Linked DNA regions of Homo sapiens. The protein of the gene in region 3 purifies or fractionates together with the protein of the main gene of each other region. This does not show direct contact. Each region holds a gene or a part of one and is shown on either strand. Other genes may lie near its edges.

Region 1 (3,751 bases), on a different chromosome or scaffold from region 3:
GACCCGTGAAAACGATTTTAGTGTCTGTAGTTTTATCGGAACGCAGCCAAATGCATCCATATTTTCCATGGCTGCTTTGCGCTGCAAAGCGACAGAGTCGAGCAGTTGCCCCCAAAGCCTAAAATATTTACTATCTCGGTCCTTTTAGAAAAAGTCTTGCCAACTAATGTCCTAGAATATGAGGGCTGTATTGCTTAAACACCCTTCCAACTCTCTTCCCTCTCTAGCCACCCCCTCAGCCTTAGGCACTAACAAGATTCCTTGACCCAGAATGGGGGGAGGGCGTTATAATAATGAACGGTATTGTATCGGAAACAACACAGTAAATATCTACAGAAGGGAATGTGACTGGTTCTGCCACTGACTAACGTCTGGGTTTGCGTCCCGGTCAGAAAAGTGGGCATGACAGCGGCATCTGCAAGATAGCATCTGAGCATGAAGGCACTTGGAAAGGTATCAAGGCAGCAAATGTTCCGGGGGTGCTTTTGCAAGAGGAGCCTCTCCCGGAGCTGGACGTACACTTCGGTTCCCTTTGCACGCAGGCACCTTGGTCGCCTCCCCCAACTCCGTCCCCTCTGCTCCTGGCCCTCATTTTCTTCTATTTCCCTTTTGGCCTTGCAGCCAGCTTTCTCCTCCCCCGACACACTCCTCAGGGGCTATGAAGTTCCTGAGCAGAGCAGGGCTCAGGTAAGCAGGCCCAGGGTAGTTCAGCCCTGCTCTCTCCAGCTCCGCCAGCTTGGGGTGGGGTCGCGCTGGGACCCCTGCAGGTGACAAAAATGACTCAGCAGGGGCCGGGGCTGGGATGAGAAAGGAACGCCAGTGCAGGGACAAAATCCCCTGAAGCGCGAAGAGGCCGCAAACCATCATCTTAAGGACCCAAACATCGAACAAATTAAAATGTAACAGTGTAAATCGGCTTCGGCCCGCCGGCGGCCTGTGCCGCCACAGGCTGCACATTTAGCCTAACAGGGCGGCCCGGCGGCTTTTGCAGGCAGAAAACGCCCGCGGCCTCTCCAAAAGCTCTCCTCCGTCTGAGACCAGCCCCACCTCGGCCCGACCGGGCCCCAGGAAAGGCCAGTCGGCTGGAGGAGAACATTTCAGGGGTGCAGAGAATTGCATGTCCGTGATTATCAGGGAGACTTTGAAGGCACAGTAATCTCTCGAGAACAGGAACCATTTTCCCCTCTTGCTCTGAGATTTTGCTTGGCTAAGCGGCGGCAGCCTCCCTGCCCCCCTCTCACCCCCACCACCGCTGCCGCTACAAGCAACCACGCCCCGCGGGCCCCAAGGCTCGCCGCCCCGGGGCTCGCGGCCCCCACTCAGCCGGCCAGCCGCGCCTCCATCAGCCCCGCCCTCGCGCGCCCCCATCCGCCCCGCCCCCTCGGGCCCTCATCCGCCCCGCCCCCGCGCGCCCCATCCGCCTCCGCGGCCGGCCCTGGGAGCGCCGGGCGAGCCCTCGCGCCTGCGCATCGCCAACTTCCTGCCGCGGCACGCTCCGCCCACCCCCAGAAGCCCGCCTCCGAACGCCGCGTGAAACCCGCCCGCCGCGCGTCATTGGTCTCGGCGCCGGAGCCGTTGGCTCCCAGACCCGCCTCTCCGCCTCCTCTCACTTTTCCCAGGGCGGATGCGCCTGCGCTCAGCTGCCTGGGCGGGCTGGGAGGCGCGGGTTGAAAAGTCTCGTTCCAAGTTTGGAGAGAGAGAGAAGAGCGCCTCAGACCTCGGTACCCGCGAGCGGGGAGGAGGCAGGAAAGAAGGACGCGGCGTCTGGGGAGCACCCAGGCAGCAAGACGGGGCCCGGGCTTTCGACAGTGGGGAGTGTGACGCGCTTGGGAAAGGCAGGAGCGCCAGCGGTCGGGCTGCTCTTGGCTAACGAGAGGAGTCCGAGGCGGCGGCGAGGGGCGAACGACCCGACGCAAGATGGCGAGTAAAGAGAGTAAGAGGCCCTGCGGGGCGGCGCGCGCCGGGGCCGCGGGGGGCGGCGGGCGCGCGAGGCCGCGGCACGCGCCGGCGAAAGGCGCGAATTGGCGTGCGGAGCAGGGGGCGGGGCCGGGCGCGAGACTGGGCGCGCGCCTCGAGGGGCCTGCGCGGGACGGGACCGCCGCGCCGAGGGCTCCGAGCACTTCCGGAGCCGGGCGCGGGGCCGAGGGCTGGGCCCCCCTCTTCCCTTCCCTCCTCCAGCGGCTGCGCTCCCTCCGGCGCCCTCGGCCCCGGGGCGGAGGCGGCCCCCGCCGCTGGGAAGCGAGCGCCGCGGCTCTTTCTACGCGCGCGCGCGCGTTGACCGCCTCGGGGTCGCGGCCCTTGTCCGGGGGTTGCTGGGGTCCTCAGGCCTATGGCTGCCGAGGCGGGCGTCGTGGGAGCTGGGGCCTCCCCTGATGGGGATTGGAGAGACCAGGCCTGTGGGCTTCTGCTACACGTGCATTTGTCTTCCCGACTGGGTCGCGCAGCCCCTGTACGTACAGGTCGTCATCTTAGAACAGGTGCGAACAGCTGTAACAGGGTAAACAATTTCCATGTCCGTGTAATTGACTACCCAACATGGTGTACGCAGGGGGTATTGATCTCAATGGAAAAAATAGGCTTCCTGATTGTTAGTATTTTCTCCACCTTCTGGAAGAGCAGTTAGTTGTCCGTGTCCAAATTAGAGGTAAAAGGAAAGAGTACATGAGGTGTGGCCATCTTGAGGTGACCTCCAATTTCTGACTTTGATCTATCTCAGCCACTTAATCGTGTGGGCTTTCTCCAAATTTCAGTGTTTGAAGATACTGTGGAGGAGCGTGTCATCAATGAAGAATATAAAATCTGGAAGAAGAATACACCGTTTCTATATGACCTGGTTATGACCCATGCTCTTCAGTGGCCCAGTCTTACCGTTCAGTGGCTTCCTGAAGTGACTAAGTAAGGGTTTCTGGCAACTTTTATTTTGTTTAAATTTAACTGTCGTTCTGAATTTCCTAGTTTTGGCGTTTTATGCATAGAACATAAGTATGTAATCAGCCCTTGCATGAGGTGGCAGGTGGTTTTTATTTTCAAAACTTACGTGATTTGTGGGATGATTTCTGGTGTATAGTGTGGTGGTAAAAGGGGAGAAAGAAGCTGTTGTGAGATTAATCGTGTTTGGAGGAAGCACTGAATATATTTGACATTTCCTGGGCTTGAATGTAGAGCAGCATCTTTCTGGGCCCAAACTAATGCGTTTCTTTAAAACTTTACTGAAAAATAGAATATTTACGGAAAAGTTCACACATCTTAAGTGTTGTATGGCTTGATAAATTTTTACAAAGTGAACACACGTAACAGTCATCCAAGATAAATACATTTTAATTGGTAAAGGGAAAAAGACCTTGTCAACAATTGACCAAAGAAAAGATGTTATCGGCTTATGGAATACACTTTGAGATTGCTGTTAGTCTTCATAAGAGTATTCTTTTCTGTTACATCTGCAGTTTCTCTGGTAATAATTGCTGGCATTTATTGAGCACTCAGAACAGGGCCTGGCACATCTGAAGAATCTACGTCCTGTTGTTTGTTGTAATCCTCATAATAGTACTATGCTGTAGGTACTTTTCATCATCCTTGTTTTACTGATAAGGAAACTGGGAGTGAGAGTTTAAGTGCCATCCCAAGATCACACAGCTGGTCCCTGCATTAGACTGCCTTTCTCATTCACTTGCACCTTTTCTAGTAGGAACTTGACCATGTACTTTTAAAGTGTATTAAATATGGGGTCAGGCACAGTGGTTTATACTCCTGT
Region 2 (3,245 bases), on a different chromosome or scaffold from region 3:
GGGTCACTGCAGCTCAAGTGATCCTCCACCTCAGCCTCTTAAAGTGCTGGGATTACAGGCATGAGCTACTGTGCCTGGGCTCCTTCCATCTTTTATAAAAGATGCTTCTTGTTTGCAGAATTGCTATCATACAGTTCTACATTCTGCTTTTTTCTCTTATTTATTGTGAACCTTTCCGCTACTACGAGCAATCTTCCTTGTGGGTCACCATTAAGAGGTGCTTAAATAAATTACTGTGCATTTATGCATCTGACCCAATAATTAATGGCCCACCTCTTGTGGGTCATTTGGGTTCCTTCTCTTGGCACAGACCTTCTCCTGGCTTATATTTCTTGGGTGTAGGAGGTATACCCTCCTACCAAAGGTATGGCTCACACACCTGGTATGAAGTAAACAGCACAGTTCTTCAAACATCCCCAGGGCAGCCAGACAAAATCCACAAAAATGCCTCTCCCTTTTCTGGGCATGACAGAAACTTCATTCTAAGCGTGTGCAATGTTTATATGTAGACACAACACACATGCATGTGTATAAAGCAAATAAATACATTTCCCTCTATTGTTCATTTGATTTCACCTACTTACGGCTGAAGTGGAAAACTTATTAGGCCTGGAAAAGCCTTTCACAGCCAGGAACTGGAATGGTTTGGGATAATTTCCTTCAAATACTCATATTAAGCTTTATTTGTGTTAAGAGAACTATTTAAAACTCATCTTAAAAACATCTTGTTTAAAACAATCTTAAAAACAATCTAATACTAACCCAGAATGTAACAATCTAAATTTTACTTGACTATTCACAATAGAATTTAAAAGTTTCAGCCAAAGTTAATATGAATTAATAACTAAAATATCAACAAGCATTTTAGTTAACAGTATCTAACTCAGACCCTACAATCAGCATCTCCCATAAGCAAGAACCGGGGTTAGGTTATGTGGAAGTTACAAAGATGAGTAAATAAAACACAGCATCCCTGTCATCCCAGGACCAAAGGGATAGGAGTGAGGATGATGGAAGTAGAAACTTAAATGTGATGACAATAGGATAGAGATTGATTCCAAAAAGGCATGGGAATCTGGAAAGTTCTCAAAGAAAGAATCCGAAGGTGTTAAGAAAGGCCTTTGGAAGGTAGAATTGGAGAGAACAGTATGAACAAGGACTCAGAGCCAGAAAAATTGGGCGGGCATACAGGGGAAAGATTTTAGTGGTAATGAGGAAACAAGGCTGGGAACACAGACCAGGGCCATATCAGGTCCGGCCTCAGCAGGAGAAATATAAGCAATGGGAACCATCACACTGGGTGAAATTCAATCTTTATTTTAAAAGATGGTACACAACCATCTGCCAATTTATAAACAGATGATCAATTTATAGATTTTTAAAAGTCTACATTTTAATAAATGTTTTACATTGTGTTCATTTTATTAGCCATTTTTTGATTTTCCTAAAATCTGTTACTTATTAATGATGAATCTACTCCAAAATCTTTTTTTTTTTTTTTTGGAGATGGAGTCATGCCGTCACCCAGACTGGAGTGCAGTGGCGCGATCTCGGCTCACTGCAGTCTCTGCCTCCTGAGTTCCAGCGATTCTCCTGCCTCAGCCTCCCGAGTAGACTAGCTGGGATTATAGGCGCACGCCACCACGCCCAGCTAATTTTTGTATTTTTAGTAGAGACGGGGTTTCATGTTGACCAGGCTGGTCTCGAACTCCTGACCTCAGGTGATCCGCCTGCCTCAGCCTTCCAAAGTGCTGGGATTACAGGCGTGAGCCACTGTGCCCGGCCTCTACTCCAAATTCTAAGTACGATACTGTTTTGGTTTTAAATACCATTTTTGGTTAAAGAGCCCCATTTAAATTGTTTAAATGAAATAAATACATCCAAAGTAAATGCACGGTGAAAAATACATTTTAATCCAAAAGTTTTGAATATTGGCACTTAGAAAGTTATTTACAATCAATTTTACTATACCCTTTGTGAATAAAGAGATAATTATGTACGTGTAGCTACCTATAGTTGTTTCTTTCCAACTCAAACACCATAACTATGTGGAAAAAGGGTAAGAGTTAAAGCTGCTGCAGCTCAAAATCATTACAATCAACTTAGATTCTGCAAATTTTCCCAGGGTTGAAAAATGCTGGTTAAATCAGGACAAAAGAGGAGGCAAGTGAGTACACCCCACTCCTCTCCCATTTTACGTGTTGCTCCCTTACTTAACCGGCAAAGACCTGCACCTGAATTCTAGACAATTTCATATACAACAGGCCTCTTATTATGGGTCCATAGCAGATGGTTTAGGGTAGATGTTTTAAAGATATCAATGCTAATGGCCTACCAATGACTTTCATGACCTCCCAATATTCGTTTTAATGGTAGTCAAGAGACTATCAAGCAGGAAGCCTGATCTCGACATGTTTCCTCTGCGGCTTTGGTGAAGCTGACTATCTGCAGTATAAAATCTTATGGTTTGATCGAAGTCTCATTTTTGACTAGAAACAGTAAAGAGCAGCTTTATTAAGATCAATGGAATGGTTCTGAATGCCTGTTTCTACAGAAGGATTAAATTAAAATTTTTTCTTTTTTTTCTTTTTTGAGACAGTCTTGCTCTATCACCCAGGCTGGAGTGCAGTGGCACGATCTCGGCTTACTGCAATCTCCACCTCCCGAGTTCAAGCAATTCTCCTGCCTCAGCCTCCCGAGTAGCTGGGATTACAGGCATGCACCATAACACCCAACTAATTTTTGTATATTTAGTAGAGACAGGGTTTCATCATGTTGGCCAGGCTGGTCCTGAACTCCTGACCTCAAGTGATCCATCCACTCAGGCCTCCCAAAGTGCCGGGATTACAGGCATGAGCCACCGCACGTGGCCTAGATGAAAGTTTTTAAAAGCCTGGGCTAATAAAATCATCCACCAATCATTTTTCTTATGGTTAAAGCAGCCAAAAAGCTGTCACAGCATTTTTGAGATGAGAACATAAGGCTTGTGTGGCTTTATGATAGATGCTGTTAGTCATTTTATTTGATTAAGCCCTTGGTCAGTCATCTATACCTTAATTAATATTTTGTTCTTATAGAAAAATACAATCCATTTTATGAGTTTCTAGAAATAAATAATGGAGAAAAATAGATACTACCTGTTCCTAATGGTCTCTCTGGAAATTACAGCTTTTGCCTAGGAAGATACACATATAGAATATAATTTAAGTTCAAAATATATTTCATTATATTCTATCCCTTTTAAT
Region 3 (3,751 bases):
CACTCAGTCGGGAAGCCCTTCTAATTCAAATATTTGAAAGCAAGTAAGCAGAAAGTACACTACATATACCCAAAGGTACTGGTAGCTGCTTTGCTGTGTCTCGAAGTGGACTTATATATGAAAGAAAGTTACAGCAGACTTCCCCAAGTCTGATCAGAAAGCTGTGGTTGCCATCTTGTTCCTGCTCTCTTCAGAAAAAAACCATGGTGCTTTATTAAGCCCATGAAAAGCACACAAGGAGGTTTGAGATACTGGAAGCTCAGATTCTCCATGGAGGCAAGGTGACCATTCGCACACGTAGAGGGGAGATCTGATGATGTGGTGACAGGTGTGTACATGCGCACCTTCTATGTGGTGCCCTCCAGAAGCCAGCTGATGTGTCCCGACACTGCCCGGTGAAGGTTGGACCCGGGAGGGGAAAAGCTGATGTATTCTCTGCAAGGCCAGAAACTTGATCAGCTTCTCGTCCAGCATATTTATCTCGATTTCTATTAGCCAAAGAGAAAGATTAAAAAGCAGCTGAGATGGGAAGTGGAATGTGGAAGCAAATCAGGGTCACAGAGCAAATAGTTTGGCATTTCTAAAATCCAGCCAAGTGATTTTTACTCAAACAGCATTGAGTGCAGAGCGTACAAGGATCTGCAGCTGGGCATCTCACTTGCCATTTGCAGTGAGATGGGCCCCAATGCAGCCTGTGCAGCTGCCTCCTGTAGTTGGGTGGACTGATTTTAATTAAAGTGCCCCTAGAAAGGCAGAGTGGAATAAACCACTTGCCTGTCTGTGGGGGAGGGCCTGGATGTCTGATATTGAGACTTGAACTTTCTACCCACCTTGTGTTCACAGAGATCAAGATCTGTCCCTGTTCTCCTGGACTTTGGGGGTTTCCCACAGATGAGGTCCCTCCTTTGGGAGTGAGGATCTTAGTTTTATTCTGCAAATCCAGGTGATCTGCCTAAAGTGATTTTGTTCTCGTCTCACTGGTTCAGCTTGGCTCTGTCCTCCCTTCATCTTTGATTATGTGTATATGCACATGTAGAAGGCAGAGCTACAGAAGGAGCTTTCTTTTTCACCCCGCCCCCCCATCCAAAAGGATACTCCTCATTCCCATCTCCCCCTAGGCCTCTGGGATCAGGTGTCCCTTCCCTCCCTTTCTGAAATGAGCTGAATGCTGTATAGGAATAGCACCTTCAACATAGCAAACGGTGGAACAGCAGCAGCTCATTCACTCACCTCCATTGACATCCATAAATGCTCGAAGTGAGTTGGTGAGGTCCACCATGGCAGTAGAGTTGGCTGGGAAAGAGGGTACGGTTAAAGCGCTTCCTATGGATAACGTGCCGGGGCTGACCTTGCCATCTGGGGACGGAGCAGGAAGACTGTTACTTACGTCGCCTGAGGGAAACCCACCGTCCAATCCCCCACTGCTGAGACAGGTCTGGATTTCGGACCCAAGGTGATGTTCCCTTCTTGATTCTCAACCCATAGGCTCTGGAACTCCTAGAGCTAAAAACGTGTGGTGAGGAAGGGCAGATGGAACGACAAAGCACCCAGGCACGCAGGAGTCTCCAGAGCACTGAGAACCACTGAAATCCACTGCTCTGGGGAAAGTGGTGGGGCAGCTTCATTCTTTGGGCCATGACCACCTCCCTGCTGCCTCTACTTTAAAATAAGTAGTGCCTGCCCTTATAATTCTTGCCTACTGAAATATGACTCACGGCGTGGAGAATCTACCCACGCTGGTTTTAAGCGATAAACAGAGATAGGAAAACAGCCTGGGAGCGGGGCCATCCTGGGACCAGGGGCTCCCATGCAGAGAAATCACAATCATCTGGTTACCGAGACTCCCAGCTGACTAGGAGGCCGGCTTCAGTTCAGACGGGAGAGACCACAGAGGGTTCCGGCAGCATCTGAAACCTGGTTCAGATGCTGGGGTCAGCAACTTCAAGGTCCTGAGTGCTCTCTGGGGACAGCTGAGAGAGCAGGTCCACAGTAGGCCAAGTACAGACCTGAAGGACCGCCCTTTGGCATGTGGCCTGAGGGCACGCTTCTGGGCTAGAACAATCCCTGTGGGCATCCCACTCTACAGCTCCTCTGAAAGACAGTGCTGCTGTCTAGCCCTGCTTCCTGACATGGAAGTTCATCAGATTAACTCTTTCTGAGAATATGCATCAGGCATGAATCCATTCTTTTGTGTGGATCTGACAATACTGAGGCCATCACGCAGAACCTCAGGCTGATCATAGTAATTCCAGAGAGCACCCTGCCTTCTTTTAAGGTGACAGAACAAAACAGGCAGAGGCCTAGGCCTGGAAGGTATGGGATGGAGTCAGGAGACCTGGGCTGTGGTTCCAATCCTGCCACTGACTCAGTAGGTCATTTTAAGGAAATCACTGAAGCTTTCAGAGCCTAAGCAGTCCCATTTATAAACGGGACAAGTTAACATGTGCTTCCTCTTCTATTACGGAAATGAGAGTAAGACAAACAATACAAAGGCCAAAGTCCTCTGAAGTATTCACAGGGATATAAGTGCTTTTAGAATCTTATTTGCCAGAAAGAGCATAAAATTATTCCAAATCAACCCAAGGCTGAGCAGCACTCACCTGACGATGGCGCTGGTGAGCTGAATCGTTGGTTGGCTGTTGTGGCCAAGATACCATCTCCTGCTGCTTGCGGGGGAGTGAGCACCCGGGTGGCGTTTGGGGGTGAGCCCAGTGGCCTTGAATCTGTCAACGGAGGTCCTATCTGTGATTGGACAGTCTTTCTTTGCAAAGTGCTGGTGTTCTCGATGCTGGCACAAGAGCTGGGAATGGAAGGGGGCAGGCTTGGGACAGGAACCAAACTCCTCTGGGGGCAAGAGCTGGGGCCAGTGGCATTCTCTGTCTTCACAATGATGCCGACGGTGTGGTTCTGAAGGCCCCCAGCCGCTGGTGGCGTGAGGGGCCGGGGCCAGCCTTGCCGGTGTGAGAGGCCTGGTAGTGGGGTGTTAGCGCCTGGAAGTCGCCGGGGGTCCGTGGAATCAGTAGGGCTGCTGTAGAGGTGTGGGCCATTAGCTTTCACCTCTGTGTTCACTGGCCCATTGGCAGTCCCACAAGGGGTTTTCTTGGATTTTTCCGCACAAGAACTGCAGCCGATGTCCTCTAGGGCTGGGGACTGGTGGGGTGGAGAGCAGCTCAGGGAATTCTGGGTGCTAATCCCTGAGGGGCAGGACAAGGGGTAGTGGGAAGGTGTAGGTGTCTTGTCAGCTGTTTGCAGGGAGGTGGTGACTGAGCTGTCAGTCACAATAACAGGCTTAATATCAGCCTTCTCTGTCTGTTCAGAGTCCCAATGCGAAGGCATCTGCTTAGCAGATAAATGTTTCAATATGCTGCACTGGAGCGCAACAACACTACAGAGCCACTGCAATGGAAGGAGAGGAGAGGGGGGTGAGAAGCCTGAGAGGCGCCGGTCCTTCCTGCCACAGTGGCCAGGGCTGCAGCAGAGCTGACAAGCAGTTTCCGAGGTCCCATCATGAATGCTCACAAAGGGTGTGCTTGACTCCTGATAGAATTCCATTTCCATTCCCAAGCAAGACTTATAGGTACCCTCAGCAGGCCAACACTCCCTCTGGCCAACAGAGCTTGGGATCTGCATTTTGACTCTGCCTTTAAGGCTTACTTGTGACCAATATTCAGCAATTACCCCGAGCACCTGTGGTATGTCCAGCACTATCACCTAACCTCTCTATGGGTCTACTCATCTCTTTCTACAGTAT

Evidence for each region.
Region 1: the proteins of PHF12 (region 3) and RBBP7 purify together in Homo sapiens (affinity purification with mass spectrometry; 7 studies listed by BioGRID and IntAct, with this or other methods). This does not show direct contact.
Region 2: the proteins of PHF12 (region 3) and GATAD1 purify together in Homo sapiens (affinity purification with mass spectrometry; 7 studies listed by BioGRID and IntAct, with this or other methods). This does not show direct contact.

What each region holds. Positions count from the first base shown.
Region 1 is NC_000023.11:16,868,220-16,871,970, reverse strand, and holds the start of RBBP7 (histone-binding protein RBBP7), read left to right. Parts: upstream 1-1,608; 5' UTR 1,609-1,917; coding exon 1,918-1,933; intron 1,934-2,107; exon of another isoform or gene 2,108-2,329; coding exon of another isoform or gene 2,330-2,477; intron 2,478-2,750; coding exon 2,751-2,895; intron 2,896-3,751. UniProt on the Homo sapiens protein: Core histone-binding subunit that may target chromatin remodeling factors, histone acetyltransferases and histone deacetylases to their histone substrates in a manner that is regulated by nucleosomal DNA.
Region 2 is NC_000007.14:92,457,482-92,460,726, reverse strand, and holds the end of GATAD1 (GATA zinc finger domain-containing protein 1), read right to left. Parts: 3' UTR 652-3,245; downstream 1-651. UniProt on the Homo sapiens protein: Component of some chromatin complex recruited to chromatin sites methylated 'Lys-4' of histone H3 (H3K4me), with a preference for trimethylated form (H3K4me3).
Region 3 is NC_000017.11:28,909,882-28,913,632, forward strand, and holds part of PHF12 (PHD finger protein 12), read right to left. Parts: intron 3,397-3,751; coding exon 2,601-3,396; coding exon of another isoform or gene 2,575-2,600; exon of another isoform or gene 2,263-2,574; intron 1,357-2,262; coding exon 1,231-1,356; intron 489-1,230; coding exon 345-488; coding exon of another isoform or gene 154-344; exon of another isoform or gene 1-153.